Homo sapiens: one gene and its partners. The protein of the gene in region 3 binds, or shares a complex with, the protein of the main gene of each other region. Each region holds a gene or a part of one and is shown on either strand. Other genes may lie near its edges. The genes, in order: VIP, ADCYAP1 and VIPR1. A codon is read from its position in the direction of its gene.

The links.
Region 1: the proteins of VIPR1 (region 3) and VIP are in contact, whole or in part, in a cryo-EM structure (PDB 8E3Z), measured with the Homo sapiens proteins. Residues at the interface, in NP_004615.2 of Homo sapiens: Glu36, Cys37, Val40, Ile43, Asn69, Phe90, Leu92, Phe93, Tyr118, Ile120, Asp125, Asp126, Asp132, Gln135 (codon at 2,686), Thr136 (codon at 2,689), Tyr139 (codon at 2,698), Val142 (codon at 2,707), Lys143 (codon at 2,710), Tyr146 (codon at 2,719), Tyr150 (codon at 2,731), Arg188 (codon at 3,339), Lys195 (codon at 3,360), Phe200 (codon at 3,375), Ser202 (codon at 3,381), Glu204 (codon at 3,387), Ser205 (codon at 3,390), Gln207 (codon at 3,396), Cys208 (codon at 3,399), Met219 (codon at 6,087), Phe222 (codon at 6,096); in NP_003372.1 of Homo sapiens: His125 (codon at 3,596), Ser126 (codon at 3,599), Asp127 (codon at 3,602), Ala128 (codon at 3,605), Val129 (codon at 3,608), Phe130 (codon at 3,611), Thr131 (codon at 3,614), Asp132 (codon at 3,617), Asn133 (codon at 3,620), Tyr134 (codon at 3,623), Thr135 (codon at 3,626), Arg136 (codon at 3,629), Leu137 (codon at 3,632), Arg138 (codon at 3,635), Lys139 (codon at 3,638), Gln140 (codon at 3,641), Met141 (codon at 3,644), Ala142 (codon at 3,647), Val143 (codon at 3,650), Lys144 (codon at 3,653), Lys145 (codon at 3,656), Tyr146 (codon at 3,659), Leu147 (codon at 3,662), Asn148 (codon at 3,665), Ile150 (codon at 3,671), Leu151 (codon at 3,674), Asn152 (codon at 3,677).
Region 2: the proteins of VIPR1 (region 3) and ADCYAP1 are in contact, whole or in part, in a cryo-EM structure (PDB 8E3Y), measured with the Homo sapiens proteins. Residues at the interface, in NP_004615.2 of Homo sapiens: Glu36, Val40, Ile43, Asn69, Leu70, Ile89, Phe90, Phe93, Ile120, Gly123, Leu124, Lys127, Asp132, Gln135 (codon at 2,686), Thr136 (codon at 2,689), Tyr139 (codon at 2,698), Val142 (codon at 2,707), Lys143 (codon at 2,710), Tyr146 (codon at 2,719), Tyr150 (codon at 2,731), Arg188 (codon at 3,339), Val192 (codon at 3,351), Lys195 (codon at 3,360), Phe200 (codon at 3,375), Glu204 (codon at 3,387), Ser205 (codon at 3,390), Cys208 (codon at 3,399), Phe222 (codon at 6,096), Gln223 (codon at 6,099), Val226 (codon at 6,108); in NP_001093203.1 of Homo sapiens: His132, Ser133, Asp134, Gly135, Ile136, Phe137, Thr138, Asp139, Ser140, Tyr141, Ser142, Arg143, Tyr144, Arg145, Lys146, Gln147, Met148, Ala149, Val150, Lys151, Tyr153, Leu154, Ala155, Val157, Leu158.

What each region holds. Positions count from the first base shown.
Region 1 is NC_000006.12:152,752,576-152,762,047, forward strand, and holds the end of VIP (VIP peptides isoform 1 preproprotein), read left to right. Parts: intron 1-1,590; coding exon 1,591-1,713; intron 1,714-2,300; exon of another isoform or gene 2,301-2,693; coding exon 2,694-2,798; exon of another isoform or gene 2,799-3,558; coding exon 3,559-3,690; exon of another isoform or gene 3,691-4,520; coding exon 4,521-4,566; 3' UTR 4,567-4,609; exon of another isoform or gene 4,610-6,215; intron 6,216-6,334; 3' UTR 6,335-7,185; downstream 7,186-9,472. UniProt on the Homo sapiens protein: PHM-27 and PHV-42 are two bioactive forms from proteolysis of the same precursor protein, that cause vasodilation. PHM-27 is a potent agonist of the calcitonin receptor CALCR, with similar efficacy as calcitonin.
Region 2 is NC_000018.10:899,070-909,770, reverse strand, and holds the start of ADCYAP1 (pituitary adenylate cyclase-activating polypeptide preproprotein), read right to left. Parts: upstream 4,711-10,701; intron 4,690-4,710; exon of another isoform or gene 4,386-4,689; coding exon of another isoform or gene 4,385-4,385; coding exon 4,275-4,384; exon of another isoform or gene 3,119-4,274; intron 2,113-3,118; coding exon 1,981-2,112; intron 1,507-1,980; coding exon 1,408-1,506; intron 1,227-1,407; coding exon of another isoform or gene 1,181-1,226; exon of another isoform or gene 339-1,180; intron 326-338; coding exon 136-325; 3' UTR 1-135. UniProt on the Homo sapiens protein: PACAP is a neuropeptide involved in diverse array of physiological processes through activating the PACAP subfamily of class B1 G protein-coupled receptors: VIP receptor 1 (VIPR1), VIP receptor 2 (VIPR2), and PACAP type I receptor (ADCYAP1R1).
Region 3 is NC_000003.12:42,524,711-42,534,718, forward strand, and holds part of VIPR1 (vasoactive intestinal polypeptide receptor 1 isoform 1 precursor), read left to right. Parts: intron 1-1,176; coding exon 1,177-1,283; intron 1,284-2,682; coding exon 2,683-2,786; intron 2,787-3,261; exon of another isoform or gene 3,262-3,280; coding exon 3,281-3,413; intron 3,414-6,068; coding exon 6,069-6,222; exon of another isoform or gene 6,223-6,248; intron 6,249-6,760; coding exon 6,761-6,821; intron 6,822-7,092; coding exon 7,093-7,159; intron 7,160-7,310; exon of another isoform or gene 7,311-7,385; intron 7,386-7,531; coding exon 7,532-7,623; intron 7,624-7,853; exon of another isoform or gene 7,854-7,869; coding exon of another isoform or gene 7,870-7,915; exon of another isoform or gene 7,916-8,032; intron 8,033-10,008. UniProt on the Homo sapiens protein: G protein-coupled receptor activated by the neuropeptides vasoactive intestinal peptide (VIP) and pituitary adenylate cyclase-activating polypeptide (ADCYAP1/PACAP).

The DNA of each region.
Region 1 (9,472 bases), on a different chromosome or scaffold from region 3:
AGATAAATAATAAGCTTTTATCCATTGTTATCTCAAGTCAGTTCAATTTCTGGTGGAAAAAAGCTGTTTAGTTGCCAACCACATTTGAGTTTATTTTCAAGATTAATCAGTAAATAATCATAAGACTAGTAGTTGATTAGTGAAACATGTATAAAATCATGTTGCACAGAAATCTATCTAGGCAGAGTCAATTTGCCAATATTAAATATGGGGTAATTGATCTATTGAGATACACTCCCCCAATAGGAAAATTTTGATATACTTTGTTTGGACCATAAATCCTTAGTTTTATTGTTCTATATGTTATATTATATATTCCAAATCCATAAAGTATAACACAACTCTTATTTAAAACTTTATTAATGTATGCTAAAGAAGTAAACAATAAATGAAAACTATATTAGCTTGAATTTTCCTTTCAGTTTACGGGCACCACTGTATCTCCAAAGGAAAAATAATAATTGGGTTGGTTTCCTTCTTTGCTTATTAGGTCATTCTTGATTTTTTGCTTAAGGTAGACTTATGCTCAACAGAGAGAATAACCTCTTAGCTATTAGTGTTCTCTGTGAAATCTGTTTAAATACAGCTCCTGCGTTGCTTTGATAACTAAACAAAATGGTTCTATCTGAATAGTTCTACCACAGCAGATGAACAATCACAAGAATGTGGACATTTGTGTTGATTGCTAAGCTTCAGACCCACAGAGGACTAGTTGCTAGTGACTCCCAACTCCCAAATCACTGAAAGATACACAAGTGTCCAGGAGCTGACACGCTCCTTGGATGTTTGCCCTAACAGTGAAAATCTGCACACACAAAATTATAAGAGTTGCCGGTGATTGAAATATGCATGCATCCATAAATATAGTCATATTCCATATATGCATTTGACTATTCTTAGTCTTTCAGTGTAACATTGTACATCCCTTATTAAAGTTGTGTTAATACATAAGATTAGAAAAAAGAAGGCCCCATAAAACTTATTGAATTCAAATTCATCTTCATAGATGAGCTATCCATCTATGGAGACATTCTTTGAACTCTGTCAATACAGAGAAATATATAATGCCAAAGTAAATATTTGAAGCAAAGCTTGGGGGTCGAGAGAGAGAGAAGCAGTTAATACTCTGTTCTTCAGAGATGTTTGGAACAGGTAATACTGAACATCACCAAATCCATAAATTGTTATCAGTTCTCATTCAATATTAGTTTTTTGCAAGTTTCTATTTTGCATAAAATATTTCTACATACGAAATTTGACTTTGCAAAGTGAAGATATTCTTGGCATAGTAAATTACACCAAAGAAGTATAGTTTGCTTAATGCTCTGATAAGATTGAATTAAGTAGCTCTTGTGTTTTGTATATTCAGCTTATAAAAGTCATATGGCATCTACTTTATAGGATAATAGGAATTTCCTATTTATACTCTCATTAACTATATGAGCCATTAAGTCAAATTATGCTATTCTCATATTATGACTGGGTAATACTTCCCAAGAGTCTAAGTATCTTATTTTAAATGGTTGCGGAACCATACACACTGTCTTCTGAAAAAAGAATGTATTATTCTCGTGTAACTTTCCCCATCAGGTTGGGTGACAGAATACCCTTTGAGGGAGCAAATGAACCTGATCAAGTTTCATTAAAAGAAGACATTGACATGTTGCAAAATGCATTAGCTGAAAATGACACACCCTATTATGATGTATCCAGGTGAGTTTATTTTTATAAAACTATCCAATGAGTTTTATTTTAGAAAATGTGTTTAAGAACTATAAACGTGCTTATTTTATCTCACCATGAAGCTATTCCGATAGCAAAACACTAGAGGTTTCTATGTGTCATGGCTTCATTCATCCTGATTTACTGCAGATCTTACAGCTGTACATAATTTTCATACTGAAAGGTTGTAACAAGCCAGGATGAACACACCATTCACTTCCATTCTGTTGCACATAATTCCAACATCACAGATTGTACCAATTCTGATAAAAGTACAGCATTTAGCATTCCAATGATGGAAGAGTTGCCAAGGAGTTTTGTCTCTATATAAAGAAAAGATACCTGATAGAGCTGTTCATTCATAGAGCTGTTTGTCTAGAGCATCATTTCAAGTACAGACCAAGTAGCTCTATAGTACTTGGTACAGACAAAGTATAAAAGGTGCTTCATTTGAAAGAGAAAAGGTGGGATGATAGGCCTTAATGCCTTCTCTATCTTAAGAGATTTTGTTTCCAAATATTTTGGAAAAAGAAAAAAAAAGGTGTACTGGGGTTTATGAACTTTCCAAAATCAGAATATTTTCCCATTGTGAATGTCTTTATTCAGTGGGGCAGACACAAAGCACCATGTACAAATAGCAGCTAATTTAAATAGATCATATTTTTACACCAATATTTCTTAGAAAGAAATAGTTATAAAGATTCAACCATGGAGGAATATTGAAATGTGCTCCTAGAAATGCCTGTTTCTTTAATTTTTCAGTGTCTTGGGCTAGAAATATAGGGTATATCTTGATATAAGTGACTAGAAGATCTCTTTTGTTAGGGTGTTAAGAAATCTCCTTTTGAACTTTAGTTTTAATGAGAAGCTTTCATAATAAGCCCATAATTTTTTTGTTATTTAATAAGCCATAATAATATTCTAGAAAGCCATTTACAAAATAATAGCTATTTTTTTCTTCCTTGTTTTAGAAATGCCAGGCATGCTGATGGAGTTTTCACCAGTGACTTCAGTAAACTCTTGGGTCAACTTTCTGCCAAAAAGTACCTTGAGTCTCTTATGGGAAAACGTGTTAGGTAAAGAGAATTTATTATTTTTATAAAATATGTTATCATTATTCAATCTGAATATTGTATTTTCACTCTTAACAAGTTATTTACTTTGTTTGAAATTGAAAACTCGTTGATAATGTTTAATTTAGTTAAATGAAATAACTTGTATTCTTCAATAACATCTATCAAGCCCATGGACTAAGACTTTTTCATAATATCATATTCATTGACTCCAGACACACATTTTTCTCAAGTAGCAATCATTTAGCAATCTGCAATCAAATTGAACAAGACTCAGTAAAACAATCAAAAAGAGATAGTACAGACTGAGGTAAATTTTAAGGTCAAACAGAATATTCTTTTTACTTCCTGCTCAAATTAAATGGAGAATTCCAAATGGCCAACAGTCAAATATTTAGATGACGTTGCTCAGGGTAGCATAGCTTCTAAAGAAGTAATTATGTTTTTTTTAAAAAAAAAAAAAATTTCTCCCAATGGCAGAGCACAACTTCAGCTATTCCCAAATTTTTATTTTTGGATGAATTATTTGCTCAGCTGTACAGAATGTGTCATAAAACAGTCCCAGGCCATGCCAAAATATGGCAGATGATTCCTTGCTTTCCTTCATCCTTAGGTTTAGTTGTATTTTTCTTTTAGTCTTTTTATGATAGAAAATTAGTTGGGTGGGAATTGCTTTTTATGTGGCTCCAAGAAACCTGGAACATGTGTGTATTTATCATTTCTTGTGAAAACTCTTTGATTTCCTTTTCCTCATGTTCCTTAGCAGTAACATCTCAGAAGACCCTGTACCAGTCAAACGTCACTCAGATGCAGTCTTCACTGACAACTATACCCGCCTTAGAAAACAAATGGCTGTAAAGAAATATTTGAACTCAATTCTGAATGGAAAGAGGAGGTAAAGAAAAAGAGAACTTGCTAAAATGAGGAATCATGACTGACTTTCAAAATAGAAGCTGCACATGGAGACCTCTCTATCTCACTTATCTAGCTATACTACGTGAAGCAGTGATTTTCAACCTTGGCTGACATTAGACTACCCCGCAGAACTTTAAAAATACAGATGTCTGGGCCTTCTCCCAAACCAATTGCCAGGAAATCGGTGTCTTCGGTGGTGTGGCCCTAGACATACATTTCTTTTAAGAGTTCCCCAGTTGACTTTACTATGCTGCCAGTGTTAAAAATGATGACTATACAGACATCTAGTCTGAATCTAAGAGCAAGTTTCATCAAAAGTGATGATTTTTAAAACATGTAAAGCATAGTCAATTGCAATTTGGTAACACATGGAACTCACTTCGTGTGCATATTCACTACTGTTATTTAATCAAATTAAACCATTAGGTATTTTGTATATTTAGATTCTGTAAAATCTATATCTCTCTATGGTGTGTAAATATTGGACACAATACATAAACAGTGTAGTGTTCTGTCTTTTTATTCCAATTGTTTTTGTTTAAGTGATGAGTATTAAGGATAATTCTGTTTGGGTGTGATCAGACAAGATGACCTCTTTGCCCACTAGATGATAATTCTGTGAGAATAATTTTAGAAACTCTAAGATTGATGAATAATTCATAGGTACTAACAAACCTCAAAGATAATTGTTTAGCCTCCCCATACACTTTCAGAGCACAGAGAACAGCACATTCATTATGTCATAATAGTTTCTTTAGACCCTTTCTCATCTGAGAGCCTTAATATGTACAATGTTTTTCTGGTCTGCAGCAGTGAGGGAGAATCTCCCGACTTTCCAGAAGAGTTAGAAAAATGATGAAAAAGACCTTTGGAGCAAAGCTGATGACAACTTCCCAGTGGTGGGTATATTCGTGCATTCCTTCTGTATTCTTATGGCTGTCTCTGATTATATAAGTAGCTAAGAGTCACTTAGTAAGAAACATCTTAGGGTTAAATAGTTTCTCATCATGAGACCTCATCCAAGACAGACACTTCTACAACAGTGGACCCCAACCCAGTAAACAGCTTAGAATGATTCATGAAATTTTTTTGATCTTGTAAAAGAGAGCACTCACAATAAGCAAACGTTTTGAGATCTGAATAGTGTTCCTGGCTTACTTGGGGTTATTTCTACCTTTGTATCAAGATAAAAAAACAGAGGAGGCTGACTCACACTGACAAGAAAAATGGGCTTTCCTTTTGAGGATCGACCCATGCTGCTTTTATTAATTGAAGGTTTAGTCTCACAATTGACTGTTAGCTCCTCAATTAAGTATAGGGAAATAGCACCAAATTAGAGCATGGCCCATTACTATGAAAATATCAAGGCATTCTGGGTCTAACTATATTCCTTGAAACATGGCAAACTTCATAGAGCAAAAGTTAAATTTAGCTTGTTTTACCTGTAAGTTTGTTTTACCTATATGACTCTAATAGCATTCTCTGCCAACATTTTTTTTGAGCAGAAAAAACATGGATAGACTTTTTTTCTTTGTGAAGTAATAAGCTTGCTATCAAAATTGATTTTATATAAATGTGGGTTCAAGACATATTTCTTTCCTGAGTTACATTACATTAATATTCACATTCGCTCATAAAAAATCTATAATACTGGGCAAGTGCTTAAAGAAATTTCATGCTGTCACCATATCAAAGGTTAGCAGATTTTAAAGGGCTATGGAGTAAAATATGTTTGGCTTTGTGAGCCATCTATTTTCTGTTAGAGTGACTTAACTCTGCTATGGTAGCACAAAAGCAGCCACAGTTAGATGTAAAACGAATAGGAGTGACTGTGTTCCAATAAAACTTTATTCATAAAACCTGAAGGTGAGCCAGATTCCAATCCCTAACTAGGTTAAGGAGATTAAATTCACCCATGCTCAAACTAAAGGCAATTCATGGCCTTACCTCAGTTCCTGATGGGGTTATCTAAGGTTTTCAACAGTCATCAAGAGTGGACATGGTGTCTGGGAAGATACCTGCTTAATTGACTGCTTTTGTCCACTAATTACCCTTAGACCTCTAAGAGAAAGCAGAGGCAGGAGTGTGGCCCACATCAACTCTTTATCTTTTATAGACATCTCAGAGAAACAAGTCCCTTTGCTCAAAGAAGAAAGTTAATTACATATAGCTTTTCTAAGAGTGTTTATAAGAAGGCTTCTCCATCAAATTAAGAAACACGGTAGGCACTAAAATATAAAGGAGAATTGATTAATCACACTGTGCTTTGTAAATGGTAAGATCACTTATGAGATTCCATCCTCCATTCTTTTCTTTTTTAAATGGGTGGCTTTGGACAAATTCTTTGAAGAGGAAATCATGTGGGTCATCCATTAGTGAAAATTACAAGTGAATCATTAATAATGGTTAGTTAGACGTCTTTTCACATTCCAGTTCCTCTCTGATAATCAGTCCTCTAGAAGCTGCTCTCTTGGTATGTCCCAGGACATGATCCCCTGCCACAGGCTGTTAACAAGGGACAAAGAGAAATAAGTGTTTATCAGATAAGTAAATCAGTGAATGAAACTAAGATGCTAGAAATAAAATATATTTTATGCCTAAAGCAACAATTTTTTCTTTTTCAGAATTCTTGAAGGAAAATGATACGCAACATAATTAAATTTTGAGTTCTACATAAGTAATTCAAGAAAACAACTTCAATATCCAAACCAAATAAAAATATTGTGTTGTGAATGTTGTGATGTATTCTAGCTAATGTAATAACTGTGAAGTTTACATTGTAAATAGTATTTGAGAGTTCTAAATTTTGTCTTTAACTCATAAAAAGCCTGCAATTTCATATGCTGTATATCCTTTCTAACAAAAAAATATATTTAATGATAAGTAAATGCTAGGTTAATTCCAATTATATGAGACGTTTTTGGAAGAGTAGTAATAGAGCAAAATTGATGTGTTTATTTATAGAGTGTACTTAACTATTCAGGAGAGTAGAACAGATAATCAGTGTGTCTAAATTTGAATGTTAAGCAGATGGAATGCTGTGTTAAATAAACCTCAAAATGTCTAAGATAGTAACAATGAAGATAAAAAGACATTCTTCCAAAAAGATTTTCAGAAAATATTATGTGTTTCCATATTTTATAGGCAACCTTTATTTTTAATGGTGTTTTAAAAAATCTCAAATTTGGATTGCTAATCACCAAAGGCTCTCTCCTGATAGTCTTTCAGTTAAGGAGAACGACCCCTGCTTCTGACACTGAAACTTCCCTTTCTGCTTGTGTTAAGTATGTGTAAAATGTGAAGTGAATGAAACACTCAGTTGTTCAATAATAAATATTTTTGCCATAATGACTCAGAATATTGCTTTGGTCATATGAGCTTCCTTCTGTGAAAGTACATTTGGAGACACAACTATTTTTCCAAAATAATTTTAAGAAATCAAAGAGAGAAAATAAAGACCTTGCTTATGATTGCAGATAATTTTTTTGTTTGATTATTTTATATGATTCAGCAGTAACTCATTTTAGCTCTAAAGTTCTAGGCACTAGATAGCTTTTGTGGTATTTGATTGTGTGCAAGTTCTAAAATAATGATGGCTTAAAATAAAAGAGAAATTTCTTTCTCACGTAAGTCAAGAAGTAAGATGTCAGGGTTATTATAATGGTTCTGCTCAGCAAAACCCTCAATAACTTACACCCCTTCCAGCTCATCCCTCATCTCCAATGGTGTGGCACTTTTCCTCATGATCCAAAATTAGAGCTAGCATTCCAGCCATCACATATGCATTCCAGGCAGCAGGCTATAGGAAGAAAAAAGGGAGCAAATATTATATGCCAGTTCTCTTTGAACTGATATCTTATACTAACATCCCCTTTACTAGTACATAGTCTTATGGCCACAGTCATTTGCAAGAGAGGCTGGGAAATGTAGTATGTTTTCTTTTCTTTTTCTGGGTGATCATGTACCCAACTTAAAACTAAGACTCTATTAATATAAAACAAGGAAAGAATAAATGTATGCAGCGATTAAAAATAATTCCAGGCTTGGATCTTAAATTCTCACCCAAAAAGCTTAAAGAAATAATAAAGAGAGCGAGAGTCAGACCCTAACCATTAATGAAGAAGCATTATCCCCATAAGGCAAAGTTTTGCTTGGTTTCATTTTCTACAATTAGGACAAATGGCCACATCAGGAGGAACTAGTCTAGAAGTACCAGTAATTGCAAAGTAGTTTTCACAAGTTGAAGTAAATTGAGCTTCTTGTATCTCTTTTTCTTATCTGATTCTTCAAATTATTAAATATTTATTAAGTGACATTTTTATGAGAAGCACTGCAGTGAAAACAGACAATTTCTAAGTGTTAAGTGTACATAAAAAGCTTGTAAAGATGAAATGGAGCCATAATTTGAGTGTGTAACTAAAGAGTTTTAATTTTATTTTATTAATATGAATCTTTTCAATTTATTCCCTATTGCTTCAAGAAATTCATTGAAGAAATATTCACTGAATGACTATGATGTGCTATGTAGCTATCTGAGAGATTGTTCTGGGCTGAGGGAACAGCAAGTGCAAATGAGGGAACAGTCCTGACATATCTGGAGAGCAAGGAAGCCCATGTGGCTGGAGCAGAGTATGCTGGACAGGGACTCAGTAGGAGAGGAGGTCAAAGAAGTTACTAAGGACTGGACCTTGTAGGGCCTCACAGGCCACTGTAATTGTTTGTGAAGTGAGATGAGGTATGGCAGAGTTTTGGACAGAGGTGTGATATTATCTGAACTGCACTTTAACAGGATCTTTCTGGATACTCTAATGAGAGAAGAGTGAAGGAGTGCTAAGGGTGGAAGCAGGGGTACAAACTAGGGGGCAAGTGCTATAAATCAAGTGGCAGATGATGGTGCCACCAAGGCAGAAGCACTGGAGGTATTGAGAAGTATATCTGAATAGATCTTGAAAGAAGAGTCAGGTTTTCTGAGAATGGGTTGAAGACAAGAAATAGGAGAGGCTGGGCATGGTGGGTCATGCCTGTAATCCTAGTACTTTGGGAGGCTGAGGCAGGAGGATTGCTTGAGGCCAGGAGTTCAAGAAGGAGGAAAGTCAAGAATGACATCCAAGGTAAATCACCTGAGGCAACTTGAAGGATGGGATTGCTATAGACAGAGAAGACTGGGAGGAACGAGGGTTCAGGGAAAGGTGAGCTTAGTTTGGATGCACTAAGGCAGATGTTGAGTAGGGAGTTGGAGATGTCATGAAGAGGAGATGCTGAGCTGCAGATGGGCAAGTGGGAGATTTCGCATATAGACGGGATTTAGAAACACAAGACTGGACGAGATCAGCAAGAGACCAAGTGTTGCTAAACAACAAAACACAACAAAAACAGAAACCTCAACACATAATCCTTGAGTGTTTTTATTTCCTAGTGCCACCATAAGAAGGCACCGCAGACCAGGTGTCTCAAACAAAGAAATCAATTGTCTCACAGTTCTGGAGACAAAAAACGCTAGAGCAAGGTGTCAACAGGGCAGGCTCCTTCTGAGAGCTGTGAGGAAGAATCTGATCCATGCCTCTCCTCTCGTTTCAGGTGGTTTGCAGGCAACCTTTGGCTGATAGAAGCATCACTTCTATCTCTGCCATGACCTTCAGGTAGCATGTCTCCAAATATTCACTTTACATAAGGACATCAGTCATTTTGGATTAGGGCCAATGCTAATAATCTCATTTTAAGTTGATTTCCTCTGTAGAAACCCTATCTGAAAATAAGGCTAC
Region 2 (10,701 bases), on a different chromosome or scaffold from region 3:
TTCATTTAATGGCTTTACTTCATTACATAAATACATGTTTGGATAGAACACACGAGCGATGACTGTTGAGTCAGTTTGGAAAACGACTTTTCATTGCGTCAGGGCTGTATACACAGGGTAGCTGGTAACCCATCGCTACAAATAAGCTATTCGGCGTCCTTTGTTTTTAACCCTTTGTTTATACCTCTTCCCTAGGACGGCCGCCAAGTATTTCTTGACAGCCATTTGTTTCCGGTAGCGGCTGTAGCTGTCCGTGAAGATCCCGTCCGAGTGGCGCTTGGAGAGCGGCTCCGCGTCGTCCCCCGCGCCGCCGCCGAGGCTCCCACTGCAAGCAAAGGGGTCGGGAAGAGGGTGGCGGGGCGGGAGACACAGGTTCAATCGCCGCGGGGAGCAGGCGGGCCCCACCCCACGCGGGAGCCTTCGGGGAGGGCCCGGGGCTCGCACTGCCCACCGCGTCGCCCGCCTCTGCCTGGAAGCAGCCGTGGGGAGGGCCGAGACGGCAGCCCCTCGATGCCCCCCTCCCCACGCAGGATCTCCTGGCACCAAACCCTGCGGAGGGGGCCCGGGATAAGATCCGGGCAGGCGACGCGCGCTTCAAGCCTAACCTTTCTCCCAGCGCTGCCCCCTTGAGATCCGACCCTTCGTGTGTTTGCGCTAAATTGTCCTCGCTGTTCCTCTCACCCGCGACATACAGAGAAAGTAACCGGAGAGCCCTACATATGCCAGTCTGGCTGCTGCCCTGGAGTTTGCATCGATCCTGCAATTCCTAGTCAAATATGAACACTCCTCTCCCTCCTCACGCCGAGTTGAAAAACGTGATAATAATATAAGTCGACAGGCTGTAGGCAATATTTTTCACTGCATGACTTATTCATGGCGAAAATGTAATCTGTTTTCCCACGGGCTTTATTAGAATGTTGCCTTCTGCCGAGATAGGCTTCACACAAGCCCTGTGCTCTCAGTTTCTCTGGCGTGAGCAAAACTGTTTGGGTCCATAAGTGTCCACATTTGGCCATTTATTATTTCGATTTGAATTTTCAGTAAATACAACCACCCCTTTCCCCTCCCCCAGAAACAGTCATGCTTAGAGAAAATTATAGCAAAACCTCCCTGGAAGCCTGAAGGTTTTGGATGACTGAGAGGTTTGGTTTGGTTTCTCTTTCTTTTCATTCAAAACGGATCAAACTCCCTGGCTCGCGTTCCCTTTTTGCCTCTTCCAGAGCTCTCTGGGCAAATTTAAAGTGCCACTTCAAAATCTCCAACTGCGACCCGTGGCGGATGCCCACCCCAGACCCAGGGGCGCAGACTCACCCTGGCCCCCACGGGCACCCACCGCCGCCCGCCCCGCGCGCCCCGCACAGGCACCCACCCCGGCGCGCGCAGGTTAATCCTTCCACAAACTCTTACCCCACGCCCCGGGCCACGAGCGACTGCAGGTGCTTCCCGGCGGACAGCTGGTCCAGCACTTTGCGGTAGGCCTCGTTAAGGATCCCGTGGGCGACATCTCTAACGGGGAGGCAAAGTGCGCGCCCAGGGTCACTGTTTCTGTCCCCAGGTGGCCGCTAGAGACCCCCTTGTTGGGCGCGCGCCCCCTCGGCGGCCGGGGAGGCTGACAGGGAAACCTCCAGAGGCCCAGAACTCGCCAATAACTCCCGGGATGATCTCGAGAGCAACTGCTAGGATCGGGAGCTAGTCCCGGCTCTAGGAGTGGCAGATGCGGAGTGTGGGTTCCTTGACGCCACTCACTGCCACTCTTTGGGCCACAGCCCCCCTCGGTCCCCACGCGGCCCTCAGGTCCACACAGACCCGCCCGCTGCTGATTTTCTGTCGCTGCAATAGGATCGGGCCAGGGAGAGGACAGGCTTGAGGACTTTCACGGGAAAAAAAAAAAAATCCTGGGTGGGTCACCACACTGCCCCTCCCGTCACCGCAGTCCCGAGCTCCCAGCCGCGGGTGTGCGCGAGGCCGCGCGAATCTCACCTTCTCCCGGCCGGGCGGTACCAGGCGGCGGCGGCGCGCGGCGCGGAGGCGGGGCTCCCTGCGCCCGGCGGCTCCGAGCCATCGAAGTCTGGCAGCGGGTTTCCGTCCTCGCCGTACGCCTCTTCCTCTGGCCTGCGGGGTGGCCGGGGACAGAAGGTGTGGTCAGTGCAAGTTCCTCCCCAGCTCGGCGAGGATCCAAAGTAAGGGGCTCGCGCGGATTTTCACAGGTGATAAAAGTCCTCCGCTGAGAATTGTCTCTTCTCCCAGGACTGGGGGTGGGAGCAGAGGTAAGGAGGAGGCAACGACACCCAACCACTCCTACCCCGCCGGGCGGCCCGCCCACCCCCCCTTCGCGGGTAAAGGGTCGTCCTGCGGGCCACGGCCTCAACAAGCGCTGGGAAACCGAGGCGTCTCCGCCGATCGCGCACACCTGTCTACGGAAAAGGACCGCCCCCCTCCCCGCCTGGCTCCCGAGCCTCCCCAAAGCAGCAACGGGCGGGGACGAGAAAGGCCCTGGGAGACCGGGCGCTGACCCACGCGAAGACCCGAATGGGGAGGCCCAGAAAGCAAAGGAGAGGATGCGTGGGGCGTGCGGGGGCCAACTCCTCAGCCACCCCCACCCCAGCCTCCGAGCCCAGGGGAGCCCTTCTCCGAGCAGATGTAGGTCACGGAGAACCTCGGTTTCTATTTTGGGCAGGCGAGGATCTGGCAGGAACATGAATAATAAATGCCCCTAAACTTAGCCAGTTCGGCGGCGGCTCAGACTGTGGCGCGTCCGCACCCTCCGGTGCTTCTCGCACGGAGAAAGTGCCAGGCACACGGGAACTTGAAAATAGCTGAGGGTGAAACCAGGGTGTTTTAAGGCCACTAAACGAATAGTTCGCGCTGATCTGTTATCGATGGCGGTGCCCCATCTCAACCCCAGAGCACGAGGAGGGGGACCGAGATCCAGCGAGTGCCTGGCGACTTCGCAGTCGCCCTCTACAGCCTCCGTTCTTGACACAGGACGGGTAGAGATGGGTTAAAACAAATCCCTCTCGCTTTGGACCCCTGGAGAGACTTGGCGTGCAGCCAGCGCTAGTAGCACTCTCTGGGCGGGGTTGGAGTCGTACTTCGCTGCTTCACTCGCCTTTTCTCCATCCTTGGAGAGGCCCGGGCAAGGCAAGCGCATCATTCCGCACGCCTCGCACCCAGCCTTTGCTCGGCGATGCGCCTCAGCCCTGGCCCGGGTACCCCGAACCCTGGGGTCTTTCTGGATATTGCCCTGCCTCGAGCCCAGATGCTGGAATCCTAATACAGAACCCAGAACCCATCTCTCCGTCCAAATCAATGATCAGCGGCCCCCCAGAGCTAATGTTCCTGGGCGGGGCTCGGAGAAGGCAGCTTCGCAGGCAGAACGCGCGCTCCTCGCTGCCCCAGGCGCCGCTGGTACGAACCCTCCCCTACCCAGGGCTCATCCACAGCCTGGCACATCGGTCCGCGACTCTGGGGCTGCCTCCGGGAACCTGGGCCGCGCCTGCCGGTTAGAAACCCGGGGTTAAGAAAAAAGCCAAGGTTCCTCCATCCCGGGCCAGGCAGGGCTGCTCTCCCGGTCCTGCCTGCCTGCTGGCTTTCCCTTCCTCCTCCTTTGCGCCTGTTTTTCCCCCTCCTTCGCAGTCTCGTCCTTGTTCTTCCCTCTCTTAAGTCGCTTTTCCTCAATCACACCGGGCCAACACCCTCCCCACCGCACGCCCCCCAAGACAGCCTGGGATTCAAAATGCAGTTGGAACACGGATCACTTGAAAGAAAGCTCTTCAGGGGAAAGAATTGGAATGAAATGAAAAGAAAGGGTGGAGGAGAGAGAGAGACCCCACCCGGATAGTCCAGAACAAGCAGTAACAAAGCAAAGTCCGAGGGAGCTTCACGCTCAACCCCCGGCCAGGCTCCAGAGCTGAAGTTCTCCTAACTCGTCCCAAGAATAGGTAAAAGAAACCAAGCTAGGGGCCGTGCCCTGCCCCCATCCTGTGGGCCGGGTTGGGGGAGGGGGGGTTCTCCAGCGGCCAGAAGCTCACTGGCTCTACCCGGGACCCTGAGCTGCCTAGGGCTGGGGGAGGCGTCCGAGCAGTCGCGGAGCCTGCCAGACCCTCGGCTAGAATGGGGACCCGCTGTCCAGCCGAGGCTGGCGGAGGCGCACCGGGGGCGCAGAGGGCGATGCTAGTAGTCTGGACCCAAAGGACTGCAGGAAGGAGACCGTGAGGAAGCGTCTGTGCCTGGGAAGCCCCAGCTCCTGCTTGGGCCAGGCAGCCAGCACCTACCTGATCCCGGGGAACCGGAGTCCGGCGGCGGCAGGTGAGCTGTAGACGCTGCTGTGCATGATTATCCCATAGACCAGCAGGGCCAGCCTCGCTCCGCTACACATGGTCATTCTGCGCAGGATGGGAAAGAGGACACACAGCTGTGAGAACGCCCCTGGCCTCCCACCCTCCAACCCCAAAAAGCTCTGGAAGCCGGGGGAGGGACGGAGCGAAGCCCCGGCTCCCTGAGTTGAACAGCACTTGGCGACAGCCGGTGCGCGCCCTGCCACTTCTTGCTTGCTATAGTTAGAAAAAAATATATATATATGCATCTACCCGGCGCCCAATAACTAGCCAGACCCGGCTGAAGGAAAGCTAACTCCCCTGACGCGATGCCAAGCGAAAGAATCAGCAGTCGAGTGAGCCGGTCGCTTTGGTAAGATTTTCCCTCCCTTACCCTTCAACTCCTCCCGCTGCCAGGAGAGCTGCCAGGTAGGACGGCGGGCAAAGCGCTTCTTCAAGTTCCTGCGCTGGAGTCACCACCCGAGAGGCATCGCCGTCTGGCGTTGGTGTCTGAGCAGAAGCCGCAGGAACCAGCGGGAGCAGCAGGAGGAGCTGCGGGACTCGTTTGCCGAGGCTCGTGTTCTGCTCAAAAGTTTGTAGACGCGCAGAACCAGGAGGGAGCGTGACACGGAGAGAAGGGGGCGCAGAGAGAGAGGCAGAAGAAAGAAAGAGGGGGCGATGAGGTGAAGCGCGGAGGAGCAAGGTGGCCGTAAGTCCACCCGGAGGAAGAAGCAGGCGATTAAGGGAAAGAGGGAAAGTCAGAAAAGAAGGGGAGGAAGGCAAGGGAGAGGGCGGGCGGCTAGCCCGCCTTTGTAGGAGCCGCGGGCCAGGCAGCCGCGAGGGTCGGCGGCGCCTTCTCTGCTCCGAGGTCTCTCCGGCTGCCTCTGAAGCTGCGGCTTCTGCTGCTGCTACCGCTGGTTACAGAGGTGACCGGCCTTCTGCTCCTATTTATCTGTGCAGTTCGCAAAAATCTATCCGAACATGGTTTTTGGAGAGCCCTCTTTGTCAACATCTGCCTGCCTGTTGCCTTTAAGTACAGAATATTTTGTTGCACTGTTGCGCTCCGATTTTTATTCATGAAATGACTTCCTTTTTTTTTTTCTCAGTCACGTAATGATCGGGTATCAGAAAAAGACGTCAGCATCCTAGTCCCTCAAGGAACATATTAACTATTCTGTGCTGTCCTCTTGGATGATAAGATCCGGAGTCATCGACTTCTCATAAACACCTTTCACTCATACAATCCAATTTTTAAGAAGTCCAATTGTTTTGATGGTTTTCAATTTCACCCGTTTCTCAAGGACAGGTAAAGAATTTTTAGAATTTTGAGGATGACAAAAGTTATGTTTTTAACTATATAATTACGATTTCTCTTTACTTTTTCATCAAGCCTCACCAATCAGAGCTCTGGTCTCTGGAATTAAGCATCATCAAGCTCTCCTATTAATAAATTTAATTTAGATCTCCTAATTTCTTGCGTATGTTCTTTCAGATAGACCATTAAATGTGGAAGTCGTTTTGTTTTTAAAGGGAAGTCTTGGAGGATTTTCAGTAAATCTCTCCTGAGTCTGGCTGCCGTTGACAGTAGGGCTATGAGTAGATTGATGAGAGCTCATGCTGCCTCCGGAGCGCGGCCTGCGGAGCTGTCCAGACTCCGGGTGCTGAAGTGTAGGGTAACAGATGCTACAAACGTTGAAAATTGCCACCGGTTTAATTTTTCACCAGAGCCTCTAAATTTGAAGATTTGGCAGTAGTGCTATTAACGTGGCGATTCATCGCCTAAATCACCCCCACCGTTCAGATACATCCTTTCCCTCTTGTAGCGTCCATAAATGCCCTAATGCTGAGAATGCTCCCCATCCCTGCCTGGATTTGAGGAAAAAGCATTCTGTCCCCCGTTAGTCCTGGCTTTTGGATTTCTAGACCGGCTGTTTGGCTACTTTCACACCTTCTGTGGCTCTTACAGATTTTAAAAATTGATGTTGTGAAATTGTGTTTTCCACAAGAAGTGAAATTTTAAGAATTTGGGGGCGAGAAATATGTTTTTCCACTTTGTTTACAACTTCAGCTCTGTTTGGGAGACACAGACAGACTGGGAAAGCATGAGGGTTCCCAGTACAAGTTCACCTGATGAAGGTTTCTAACAGGAATCCCTCTGCTGGAAACAGTTAATTTTTTTAACTGAAAATGATGTGGGAAGAGGAAAGCAATAAGGGAAGACCATATCCACCCAGAGGCTTCCAATTTCCTGGGTAATTGAAGAAGGTTCATATATTTCTACTCCAGTAAGAGAACTCAGGTCTATTTCTTTAAAAAAAAAAAAAAGAAGAAGAAGAAAGAAAGAAAGAAAATAGAGCCATCAATAACCATTAGAGTGCATTTTAATTATTTGGATCTTACACAAAAATTAGGGGAAATTCCAGTTTAGTGGGAGGGTTTCCTGTTACTACGATTTGGATCTCACATTTAAATAAGCTATATTAGTTCTGCATGCTTTTTCCAAGATATTATATTTCTCCTTCTAAATGCTGTTCCTGCTCTTATTTGAGATTTAATACTTCCTCCTTCTTAAAAAAAAAAACTAAGTTTTGTTTATTCCTGGCCATGAATGACCGAAAACTGTCTGCTTCCTCTTAGTTTATTCCTGGCCGTGCTTCAGATTGTCTGCCTTCAATAAAGCTTCAAACCACATCTACATGGGAATATGTCTCTTTTTCTCTGATACATATGCTCACTGATTTATGTTGGACTGTTTACATGCGTGTTTTCCATGTTCAGCTCTGCCTCTGCAGCAAGCTCGCACACAAAGAGCCTGCGGTGAACACTACCAGATAATCAAGCAGAGATGTCTTTCTTACTAAAGCGCCCAAAGCTATTCCCCACTGTGGCTTTCCTGTCTTCCGCCTTGCTTCACGTCAAAGGTGAACCCCATTAAAATCCTTACTCTTTCCTCCCACACGAATTCTGAGTTGAGTTCAATCTGGAGAAATATTTGAAAATTTCCAAGACTCCTTGTACAATTCACTACTCAACTTTAGTAAAGGGAGCCACCATGTGGGGAGTTTGCTGACTTCACGGCCCATTAAAGGGGGAAAACCACAAACACGATTAACTATCTGGGGAGGACGACTAACTGCTGGCTCCAAGGGCCAACAGAGGCTGAACTGTGCCTCTGACTTACCAAGGCTGCGACCCCGTGCTCTTCTCAGCTTAGATACTCTCAGCTCAGAACTCGGGGCTCAGCACCCAAAAATTACAGGCCTTCAGACCTGAACCCATTCACGAGAGTGAAAGACTAAACAGAGAACTTGAGATTCTTGGTCACTGAACTCCAGAAAATCAAGCTTCCTAGACCCACCAATTGCTCAACACAATCTAAAGACCCACACAGCCCTGCCCACAGCAGCCTGGGGGAATCAAACTCCTACAGGATCACCCACAGATCTTTTGTTGCTCATGGCCATTGTCTAGCTGGGCATGTTTGACATCTCTCTGCAGGAGAGCTTTCCTATTCATGAAAATCTGGCCTTGGCCCTGGGCCAAGGGAAAAGGCCAATAGATAGGAGGAACTAGAAGCTGCTAGATGAGAGTATAGGCCCCTTCTGCTTTCTATTGGGTAGAGGGAATATGGGATGACTGAAGTCTCAAAGACCAAAACTACCCCCAAATGCCCCTTTGATTCTAATCTTGGAAGGCTCCAGTCAAGCATTAACAGAGCATCCTGGAGGCCTTTGTGTCTGGGACTTTGAGGGAGCTGCAAGGAAGAGGGAACTTGTCAGCCCAAAGCCCCAGGCTAGAGAGACCAGGAGCCCCGGCATGCACTGAGGAGGCATGCGGCAGTGGCCAGGTGGGATACCGTGGCCCAGTCCAACAGACATACTAATTGCAAGTGCAGACCCCAGCCTGGCTTCAAGTGCAGATAGGAGCTGGAGGGTGAATCCTAGGAAGCCTCAACTAAAGCACTTTTATGAGAAGAGAGAGAGATAAAGGGAGGAGGAGCTAGAGGAGAATTGGGGAAGAGCAAGACCAGGGTAGGAGAGCCTTCCACTTTAATTGTTCTTACCCAGTTTCCCTCACAAAGGGTATTTAGGTGACTGGGGTTAAGAGCTCAAGAGAAACTTTCCAACCTCCTATATATAATTGAAAATGATGAAAGAGGGGGTTGGGGGAGAGGAGGAAGAAGAGACCAAAGAGTTAGAACGTTCTATTTACAGATAACACAAAGGAATTTCAAGTCTTCTTTCCAACACCCCTACTCCCTTCCCTCAGTGCTCACCAGAATACTTCCCAGGCCAGAAAAGTAGATTTCCCAGGCTGGCAGTTTCTTTCCAGGCTGTGAGATTGTTACATTAACTGGAATCATGTTTGGCTAGAAAAGTTAGAAGAACAATGGAAATCTTTCAGTGGGAGGTCTAACCAGCATCCTCCCTGAGGCACAGCAACTGAAAGTGACTTGAGCTAAGCCCTGACCTGCCCGGAAGACGCTGTTTATATATATTTGTTGGAAATGATTTAATAATACTCTGAACTTCAAGTCCCTAATGTATCAACTTTTATCCTGTTGGTCCTTCAGATGTGAAAACAAGTTTGGGTAAGAAATGATAAATAATAGCTAAAAGTCAAACTAACCCTTCCCCGAATTGTTTTTCCTGGTGGCTAACACATCCGCCTTTGTTGAAGGGTCAATCCTTGAACCTTGAATTAACATTCAATTTAAAGAACTCTAGCCTTTGAGGAAGTGGGTTTTTGTATTCAAACAGGAGGAATATGTCTAGTATATATACTGGGAGTTTGAATTGCAGATGGCTTCACAACATTAGCAAATACTATAGTGTTTGTACTGTTGTGTCTGTGCCAGGTTCCTGCCTTTGGACCATCACCACTTGGGAAATTGGCTTTCCCTCTCTTGCATGGGAATCTTCAGCATCTTTTAAACACTGCTCCCCTCCATCCCCATATTGCAAATCAGTGGTGAGCTAAAAGTATTTTTGCCTTTAAGCAGCCCAGTGAAGTGCGGCTTCTGGTCACTTAGATAAGATTTCCACTACTTTCTTTTTGGCTCAGTCACCCATAGTACCCAGGGTTTCTCCATGACATTCTCTTTCCTTAGGTACATATCTCTACACCATTACCTTTTACTACCACTATCTCTATATCCTACAACATTTGATTTTCTTAACCATATAAAAGGACATGTTTGTTCAAGGCATCCTCACACATTCCTAGTATAAATAATCTAAATCAAGATTGGAAAAGTTGTGCATTCTTTTTTTTTTTTTTTTTTGAGATGAAGTCTCGCTCTGTCCCCCAGGCTGGAGTGCAGTGGCACAATCTCGGCTCACTGCCACCTCCGCCTCCCAGGTTCAAGTGATTCTCCTGTCTCAGCCTCCCAAGCAGCTGGGACTACAGGCACCCACCACCACACCCTGCTAATTTTTGTATTTTTAGTACAGACAGAGTTTCACCGTGTTCGCCAGGCTGGTCTCGAACTCCTGACCTTGTGATCCACCTGCCTCAGCCTTTCAAAGTAATGGGATTACAGGCGTGAGCCACCGTGCCTGGCACATTCTATTCTTTTTTAGCCAGTACTTAGCATAAGAACCAGGCTATAATAAGCTTTTTCAGTAAACAAGCCTGATGCAAAACATCATCCTCTCCTGTGAGTGACAAAAGTGAATTATAACACTGTATTACATTTCACTTAAACTTTTCTCTACCGACTTTTCCAGAAAATGCAATGACTAATGACTCACTTCATACCGATTACACCTGTAGGGAAACCCAAATGTTCTGAACCAGAACATCATGACCATCACTTACTGGACTGCATGCATCATGCCTTTCAGAACTCACTGTGAAGTAAGAAGCTGATGAGCTTACCTATAATGTGTCATGACTTCTCTGACCTTCAAAATGTAGTGCTTCTCACACACTGAAAACAACTAGGAAAGGAAGCCTTCCAAACCACATGAGTAAAGCTTCTCTCTAATCTAAGAACAGAATTGCATATTCACAGAGCCAAGAAATTTTGCTTGTTGTTTTGAGATATAAAGCAGACATCTGAGAAACAAAAACCAGGATCTAACCTTTGCTACAGGTTTGGATGATTCCAAATATCTCACATATATGGCTCTACTAAGGCCTTATTCTCTGAACATGAGTTTACTGGGTACCAAAAATGTATATCCCAGACTTCACTGTGTAGCATCTTCCAAATTCCAGAGCACCTCCTCTAAAAAGCCAAGGAGAAGAAAGTCTTCTCTCTACTTAGTCTAAATCCTCTGCTGACATAAGGCTTAAATGCAGAAGGAAAAGCTTGGACAGGATCCAGGAAAACCAATATCCTAAATAAGCTTTTGAGACCACTTCAGAAAATGTTGGAAGG
Region 3 (10,008 bases):
GACCCTCCTGCAGCTCTTTATCTGGTCACCGAAATAAGTCCTCAGGTCACCTCCATGCAGGTGAGAACCAAGCTTACCTGGGAAGACTCTGGAGACCAAATCAGCTCTATCCTGTCCTCTCTATGTAGCCTTGGGCAAGTAACCAACCTCTTGGGGCCTCCACTTCTTAACTGTGAAATGGAGTTAACTTCCTCACTGGATGATTGAGGAAATTAAACAGGATGTGCCTAAAGTGCTTGACCAGCACTGACATTTGAAAAGTACTCAAAACCTGTCATTGTGATGAGGCTGACAACAGTGATGCTGCTGATGCTGCTCATGGTGACTATGGCGGTGGTGGTGGTGGTGATGAACGGGTACTGAGATGGGGAAGCGTGATTCTTCTCTGGCTCATCTAATTTCTATTCAACCCATCCTCTCCCTCTCTGGGGAGAGGACACCTCCCCAGTGCTGGAGAGTGGGGAGCCTCAGTGGTACCCCTCACCTCACATACCCCCTAAGCGGTCCTGTCTCTTTGCTGCAGCTTCAAGCCTCTGAGGACAGTGGACAGTGCAGCTTGCCTGGAGCCTCAGCCTCTGCTTGTTTCAGCCCCAAGCTCCTGCCATGCTGTGCTGCCTGATTCCCCCTCACATGCCTTTGCCTGCACAGGTTCCCCAACCCCACCCCTCCTCACCCCCACACTCCTGCTCCCCCTCCAGCAGCACATCTAAGCCCTTCCAGGTGTGAGAAGAAACCCAGCCCCACAGGCCCAGGCAGGCTGACTGAGGAGGACCGGGCAGGCCTGGGCCCCTTCCCCCAGCCGTGGCCTTGTGACAAGGGTCAGCATTCTGCTCACGGCAAGGGTCAGGAATCATTCTGTGACAAGGATCCAGGCAGGGTCTGTGACAAGGATAAGAGTGTATGTTGTACTTGGGGTCAGGTTCAGACCATAACAAAAGGGCTGAGCCCAAGAATGTCTGCTCTGATTCTATCATCGGTGCGGGAGCCCTGAAGAGGCTTCTCCCTGCCCCAGGTGCCCCCACGGTGCCCTGGGTAACTGGGTCAGGGCAGCTGGAACCTGACAGCACCAGGGTTGGTGGGAGTAGGGCTGAATTCTCTGCCTTGTTCCAAGCAGAGACAGCCAGGTCCCCATGCTCCCGGCCTCAGCCTTTGTCCTTGCCCCTGCCCTCCACCCAGGCCGCAATGTAAGCCGCAGCTGCACCGACGAAGGCTGGACGCACCTGGAGCCTGGCCCGTACCCCATTGCCTGTGGTTTGGATGACAAGGCAGCGAGTTTGGATGAGGTGGGTCTCAGGGCACCCCCACCTCACCTGCAGAGCGCCGGGGCCCACCTAGGAGACTTTGATCTCTCCCACCGAGGGGTGTGGTTGCTGTCTGTGTGGGAACAGGACTCCTGGAGTCTGCCCTCCTCTAGCCTCCTCCAGGCCTGCCTTTCTGGGGTCCCAACCCTTGGCTCCCCCTGACAGGGTATGGGAGGAGGCTTTCCCACAGGAGGGGCCCCCAGAGCAGCAAAAGCTGAAGCAGCTCCCCCAGGCTGGGCCACCCTACTGCCTCATGGGAACCTCACTTCAGCCCGGGAGTTGGCAGGGCAGGCAGACACCAGCACCCCATCCCATCCAGAGGGGAAACCGAGTTGCTGCAGGTCCTGGAAGGAACCAGACTTGGCTACCAAATAGCCAGTCAGGAACAGGGACAGAGCCTGTCATTCTCAGTCCCAGGACAGATATCTTCCCCGGAGCAGTTAAAACATGGTCTCTGTAAAGACTGGGGAGCCTGGTAAGGACATTGATGGGGAGGCTGGAGTCCTCAGCTAGGAGCCCCTCACTGCTTTGGGGTGCAAATGCATGTGTGTGTGTCTGTCTGCGATGGCATCTGCCCCACCCTCAGGCGCCCTTCTCAGACCGGGCTTTCACTCCACCCACCCCCGAGGACAGCAATTTCTTCAGAGGCCTTTGAAGCCCACTGGAGCTATAGGCCCTCATTCCCCCTTAACCACTTGCCTCTCCTCAGGCAAGCGTGGGAGGCTGACAGGAAGGAGTGGCTTGCCTAGTGGCTGTCGTGCTGCACTGCACCTGTGTCCATGGGGAGGGCATCAGGAGAGGGGACCAAGCGAGACACCCTCGGGGCCTAGCTTTGCCCTCCTCCACCGGAAAGGCCAGACTGCCCTCATCCCACCGACCCCAACTCCCAAGGGCCCAAAATGGGACATACTAGTGCCAGTGTCTTCTTCGACATCCCGCAACCTCGCATACCTCTCCTCCCTATACAGAGACAGGGCCTCGAGGGGTGTCTGAAGGGCAAGCAGACCCCACCCCTAGGGTGCCCAGCTCAGAGCTGGCACAGAAGGGAAGCCGGGCACATGGCTGGAGACATGAAATTAACAAAAGGGACGTGCAAGGTCTTCATTCTCTCCCTCACCAACTTGTCCCTCGTAAAGAAGCAAAGACAGGAAGTACATTCAACCCCCACCCCACCCTAAGACACAGTCCTGCCCTGTCTGTAGAAACCAGGGCGTTAGGGGTCAGGGGCTCAGCTGCTCTTGGGAGCCCCAGACCTCAGCCTCCTCATTTGCTGAGGCAGGGTTGGGCAGGCAGAGTGTGTAGGGCACCCCACCCCTGCCAATACCCCCTAGATGAGCCTCCCACCCCACCACCCAAGAGCCTCTCCCTGTCCCTCCAACAGCAGCAGACCATGTTCTACGGTTCTGTGAAGACCGGCTACACCATTGGCTACGGCCTGTCCCTCGCCACCCTTCTGGTCGCCACAGCTATCCTGAGCCTGTTCAGGTGAGGCCCAGCCCAAGTCACAGGCCTCAAAGCAAACCTGGCAAGTGTCCCTCCCACAGTGGAGCCCAGCGTGGCCCAGGCGTGCCCCGACCCCTCCACTGTTGCCCCCCAGCAGCACATACTCCCCAGCTCCTGCCAGGCCAGCTTCCCCTGGAGAAGGCAGGTGGCTGAGCTCTTCCATGTGTTGCAGCCTAGTCTCCCCTAGGATGGCCCTGCACCTGGGGACAGGGCACCAGAGAGTGGGGCCTGCACACAGGAATGAGGCTTCTGGGGCCACACACGAGGTTGAGGCCCTTGGGAGCCCAGTTGCACAGGTGGATGGGGTACCTGGGGGTGGGGCTCGTATTTCAGGATGGGATCCCCTTTGAGGCGGGGCCTGCCCTCTGGAGGACACATGCTCCCCTGCCCCACCCTTGCTCAGCACATAGGACAGCATTGGCTGGGGTGGGGATCCAAGGCCCCTTTGGCCTCCCAGATCTGCCCACCCCACACAGGAAGCTCCACTGCACGCGGAACTACATCCACATGCACCTCTTCATATCCTTCATCCTGAGGGCTGCCGCTGTCTTCATCAAAGACTTGGCCCTCTTCGACAGCGGGGAGTCGGACCAGTGCTCCGAGGGCTCGGTGAGGATCCTGGCCCTGGCCCACCTCCCTCAGTCTCGCCGTTATCTTTAACCACTGTAATCTCCTCTTCTCCCCCTGCTTCTCCCTCTCCCTCCTCCCTCTTCCCTCCCACCCCACCCCTCAATCCAAGGATAGCCTAACCCCCACCCAACCCCACCTGGCAGTACTCAAATCACACTCCCCTCCGGCAACAGGAGATGTTGCTCACCCATCTGGGTGCTCACAGACCTGCCGCCGCCAGTGAGAAAAGCAGATGGGAAATGGGACACTTCATGGCCACAGCCCAGAGCACCTGTCCCACCTGTTGCTAACTTCCTATGTGGCCTTGGGGAACTTACAGCCTCAGTTTCCCCATCTGTGCAAGGAATTCCAAGATTCCTTCCAACTCTGCCATCTGCCACCTGCATAGCCAGGGCTCTGCTCACCATGCCACTTTTCCTACTCCCCCCGTCCCCGTGCCATCTGGAGTGGGTCCATACATATGCAGTCCTCCTCTTTTGTTCTGATCCTGACAGCAGGCTGGTTCTGGGCCTTCCTAGGGAAGAGAGGTAAAGGGATCATCTAAGGAATTCATTGCCAGTCACTAAGGGGGCCATCTCCAAGGGATTCTTAGGGACCCTCTCTGAGTGCCCCAAGCTTTGACAGAGAGCTTGAGATCAGCCCCAGCCCCCACTCATTCCTTGTGGTCAGTAACTCATTGCTTCATGCATGACCCCAGAGGCAGTGCATTATATCAGGGGTCAGCAGTACCTTCTCCCCAAAGAGTGAAATGATCATACTGGAATCTCAGGCATTTCAACAAGGGGGAGAGAAAACCTAGGGGACCCACTTTGGCCATTCCCAGAGCTTCTCAGAGGTTCTGTCCCAGGAGCTGTGAGGCCAAGTCAGACATGAGCATTGTGAGCCACAGGACCTGTGGAGGAACCTGCTGCCTCCTGTGCACATGTTACGGATAATTATGGAGACTGGCTTCCCAATTCATTACTGCGAAGCTTTTCTAAGACTAGGAAGAAGCACAGATAACTGTCCTGGTAAAGAGCTGAGTTATGGCCAGACGCGGATTATGGCTCACGCCTGTAATCCCAGCACTTCTGGAGGCTGAGTTGGGCGGATCATGAGGTCAGGAGTTCAAGACCAGCCTGACCAACATGGTGAAACCCAGTCTCTACTAAAAATACAAAAATAAAAAAAATTAGCTGAGTGTGGTGGTCAGCACCTGTAATCCCAGCTACTCAGAAGGCTGAGGCAGAATAATCGTTTGAACCAAGGAGGCAGAGGTTGCAATGAGCCGAGATCATGCCATTGCACTCCAGCCTAGGTGACAGAGCAAGACTCCATCTCAAAAAAAAAAAAAAAAAAAAGAGTTATTCTCCAAAAGCAAATGGGAGGAAGATGGGGAGGCAAGAACTCCTGTAACTGGAGGGACTGAAGCGAGACCTGAGGAAGGACTTTCCAACCAAAGGGAGTGGTGGGGGCAGGGGGAGGCTTCTCTCTGAGGATGTCGCAAACCAAGGGTACAGGAAGGAAGGGTGGGAACCAATGTTTTGGGTACAGGGGGAAGTGGAAGCCAGACAGTTTCCTGGTGGAGGGTGGCTTTAAGCCCTGGCTGACAGACATCTAGGCTTGATCTGAAATGGGGGACTTTCTGGGAGGGGACAGAAGGCCCAGAATACCTTCCAGTCATGCCAAGTGGGCCACCCAGAGCCCTGTGATTGCTCTACTCATGGGTCTCCCTAACTCCTTCATGGTCCTCGTCTGCCTAAGAAACCCATTCTTCCACTCGGTCCTCTGAACCCCAGGAGGAATGGCCACCCCTCCCCTCTTCTCTTCTTCTTCATTTCTACTTCCCCCTCTTCCACCCTCTTCTCAGTCCCAGTCTCCCTCCACACTTCCATCTGGGCCCCACTCCACAGTCCACAGCCCTCCACTCCCCCACATTGAGCAGACTCTTGAAACTCAAGCAAGAATTCTCCCTCATACCTTCCAGCTACCTTCAATACAAATTGGCATTAGATGAATGAGTGGGTGGGGTGGGAGTGTGGATGGGCAGGTTGGTGGATGGCTAAGTAGGCAGCAGGATAAATGGGTTAAGTAAGGAAGATTGGACAGATGATAGGCAGAGGGGCAGGTAGGTAGATATGTGGGTGGATGCACAAGTGGATTGATGGGTGGGTGCAGAGATGAATGGATGGGTAGATGACTGAGTGGGTTGGTAGAAGAATGGAGAGATAGGTGTGTGGGTGGATGGATTGATAGATGGGAAGATGATAGATGATGGATGGACACATGGATAAAAAATGGATAAATGAGTGAGTTGATAGTGAATGTCTAGTGGGTGAGTGGGTAAATAAATGGATACATGGATAGGTGGGTAGATGATTGAATGGGCAGATGGGTAGATATATAGATGGGAAGGTGAATAGATGAATTGATGGATGGATAATTAAAATCACCAGTTTATCCCGAAGTATCAGAGGATCTAAAATTAGGGAAAATGGGAAAACCAATGAGTACATTTTTAAGGGGATAATGCAAAACAACAAAGAGATTAAGTTGGCTGCACTGCAACTGTGTTTGTCCCCCCAGACACGAGTGTGGGCAGTCAAGGACCCTTGACAGCCCCAGTGAACCCCGTCTTTTCTCCTCCCCCTGCAGGTGGGCTGTAAGGCAGCCATGGTCTTTTTCCAATATTGTGTCATGGCTAACTTCTTCTGGCTGCTGGTGGAGGGCCTCTACCTGTACACCCTGCTTGCCGTCTCCTTCTTCTCTGAGCGGAAGTACTTCTGGGGGTACATACTCATCGGCTGGGGTATGGTACCAGGGAGGGCTTCCAGGCTGGGGACAGAGGGGGCAAGGCCTGGAGAACTCCCTAGGGGGAGGGTGCCAACCCAGCTTGCAGTCCTACGTCTTGCTTAGCTGCAGGTCCTGCCTGCAAGGATATCAGCCAAGGGTCAAGAAAGTCCTCAAAATGTCTGATCCCAGGACAAGTCCCTCAGGTTGCAGCTGCACCTAGGGCTGACCTGTGGGACAGATTTTGTGAACATCTTTCCATTTCCCTTTAGTTCCCGAAATACACAGGGCCACTGCTAATCTATAAAGGGCCTCTGTCACAATTAGAAAGAGAATGTCCGTCTAGGTAGACACAGCCCTTCAGGCATACAGCTTCACCCCCTCAGTGGAGCATCCCTCCGTGGTGAACAACCTATGCAACCAAAGACAGCAGACTGACAACCCACCCTTTTCTCTCTCCCTCCCTCTCCCTGCTTTTCTCCAAAATCTCTCCCTCATGCCCTCTACCCCTGCTTCCTGTGCCCTCTCTGCTCTTTCACTCTCCCTGGGCCTGACAGGGGTACCCAGCACATTCACCATGGTGTGGACCATCGCCAGGATCCATTTTGAGGATTATGGGTGAGCTGCTGCCCCACACACTCCCCCGGCCGCCATCACTTGGGCAGGCCCCCTGGGTGGGATGATAATGCCATCTGGCCTTGGTGAGTGGACAAAAACCACAGCTCTCGGGCCAGAGGGGAGGCTGGAGGAGGACCTGGGGAGCAACAGACTCTGGGCCCGGGGTTGCTAAAGTGCTCAGGAGCAGAGCTGGGGACAACTGGGGGAGGTGCTGCTGAGTCTCTCTCTGGCTGAGGACAATCCCTCTCATTCCTCCCCACGGTCTGCTCAGGTGCTGGGACACCATCAACTCCTCACTGTGGTGGATCATAAAGGGCCCCATCCTCACCTCCATCTTGGTAAGATACCCTCCCACCACCTAGAGATGGGGAAACAGGCCCAAAGGGCAGGCAACTTAGCCCAAGGTCACATGGGAAATTAGTATCTAGGTCAGAACTGAAACGTAGCTTCCTAATGCCCAATGCAGGATCATCCCCACCCCTGTCCTACCAGTTCTTCCTTGAGCGTAAGCGGATTGGGAGCACAGTCCTTAGGGATTTGAAGGAGGTAGAGTTCCCGGATGACCTGCCCAAAGGGGAAATGCCAGAGGAGAGGTAAGATAGAGAGAGGGGCAGCAGGACCCTGGGAAAGAAGACAGGCCAGCAGTCAAGGGGCCTGAACACCTCAGCCTTCCCGCTCTGACTGCCCGAACTCGGGTCCCCACCCACTAGGTAAACTTCATCCTGTTTATTTGCATCATCCGAATCCTGCTTCAGAAACTGCGGCCCCCAGATATCAGGAAGAGTGACAGCAGTCCATACTCGTGAGTGTGGGCCTAGTGCCTCAGCCCCCAGTACCTCCATCCCCAGTCCTCAAATCATCCCACATCTCCTTGAAGTCCTCCCACCCCAAACATCCAGAGTCACCAAAGAGCCACATTGTTCTTTCCCACCTCCACCATGGCCTGGCTCAGCCCACCACCATCCCCTGCTCCAGCCCCACCCTCACCAGGCTGCACTCAGAGCCCTGCATGCTTCTCCTGCCCACACTCACCTAGCATCCTTCCCAGGTATGCATCTGCTGCCAAGCCAGGGAGCTCAAGAGGACACCGATGACCTGTGTCTTGTTCATACCATGTGCCCAGTCCCTGGCATGTGCCTCACATGGAAAAAGGGTGCAATAAACACATAGTAGATGAATGCCCTGGGGGAGACCCCAGTCCACCAATGAGACAGCCATGTTCGGGACTCAGTATTCCTCAGTAATAATGATGACACCTGCAGTTTACATGCCAGGCACACGCTAAGGGATTTCCATGCATCATGTCATTTCATCCACACAGTCCCCTGCAAAATTATCTTTACTTTACAGGGAGGAAATGACATACACTCCCTTCTCCTTGAGGGTTTTGGAGCAGGTCACCATGGGCAGGGAGAAGGGGGCACAATGTCCATGGACCAGGGCTTGGAAAGGTGTCAGGACTGTTCCCCCTGCTTGGGAGGACTGGAGGAAGAGGCAGGTTTTTTTGCGGGAGCAACAAGGCTTGAAGACAGAGCTAAAGAAACATGAAAAATATGAAAAGGGAGGCTGTGGGAAGGCAAGTAGGGTCTGCATGCTCACAGATGGGAGTAGGAGATTGAGTATCAGTGCTATTGACACAAGACAAACCTGGGACGTCCCACAAGGCCTTCCAGTCCTGGGATTCTTCTTGGCCTGGCTTCTCTTTGGAGAGTCTGTGCTGTGGTTCTAAGATTCCTGGCTAGAATGTCACAGACTGCTGGATTTAGGATTCTATTCTGGAATCCTGTGATTCTCCCTGATGAGACTAAGACTCACATTCCTGGTGTGACTGCATTCTCTCCTGCCAGGTGTGTAGGCGGAGCTTCCCTTCCTGTCTGAGAAGGAAAGGCTGGGGGGGACGGGGGGGGCATCTGCAGTCTGCTGAGGGGCAGCACATCGGGCCTGTGCACCCTTATCCTCTCCTTTGCCGATGGGACCTTATTTCCCCCAACTTACAATGGTTCAAAAGGGCCTGAATCTGAGGCAAACAGAGCTGGCCATGGTCAGGGCCAGGTCTGTGTGGTGAGACAGAAAGGAAACAGTTGTCAGCAGGCAAAAGGGGTGGGGGCAGTTGGAGATGAAGCTCCTCAAGGAGAAGCTGTCAGCTCCCACTCTACACCTCCCCATAAGCCTTTGATTTAAAGAAAGCCTCCATCTGTTAGCCTCCGGTGTGTGGGATAGTTTTGCAGCCGAAGAGGGGTGGGCATTGCTCAGGATCTTGGCATGGCTGAGAACCAGGTCCAGGAAGGAGTGGGAGGGGCAAGGCCAGCTCCTCTGCCCCCAGCTTGCTGTGGGACCTCAGGCCTTGGGCTAGACTTCCTTGGACTGACTGCTAAGGCAGGAGAGACAGAGTCAGAGACCCTCCCTATCCACACCCCACCTCTCCTAGCCAGGGAGCAATGGGTTCACACTGCCTGGATCAGCTATGAGGTCAGGTGGCTGGGAGGCCTGAACCAGGAAGAGCTCTGGGCCATGGGAGGCGGGTGAGCATTTAGAATGAATGCTGACCCTACTGAGCACACAAAGCTGTGAAGAAGGAGCTGGTCCTTCAGAGCACGCTGGGAGTATATGCACTGGTGTGGGGAGGTAGGAGGAGGGGGATGCAACCCCAGAGAAGGTGGCAACTTCTGGAGAAGCAGACACAGCAGAAAAAACACAGATAGAGGGCGATACTGATTAATTTTGGGTTGTCCCTGGTGATCAGGTATGAACTTGGGTCCCCATCACCCTCCCAAGTGGCCCTGGGCATATGTGGTCAGCACCCAGTTAGAAAGACTTGTTTCCTAGTACGTCTTCTCTCATGGTCTCTCATGGATGCACTATACTTCATAGTACCCAAAACACTTCCAAGTTCATAGTGGGCCTCTGTTTCTATAATTTGACTATGTCGAGCATACACTTACTGCATTATACAAATTGGAAAAACTGAGACCAGGAGAGGAGGAACCAGAATCTCTTGTTGCCTAAGAGATTTTCTACTGCTCTTGATGGCTGAGAGCATCCTCTACTGCAATGATGAGGTAAGCCTCTCCTAGACCAGGGGGCCCAGGCAACAGAACTCCCAATAGTGGATTTCAGCTAACATGTCCCTGTTAGCATCATTCTCACTGGCCTCTCCTTTACCTCTTACCCTCTCTCCTCCAGAAGG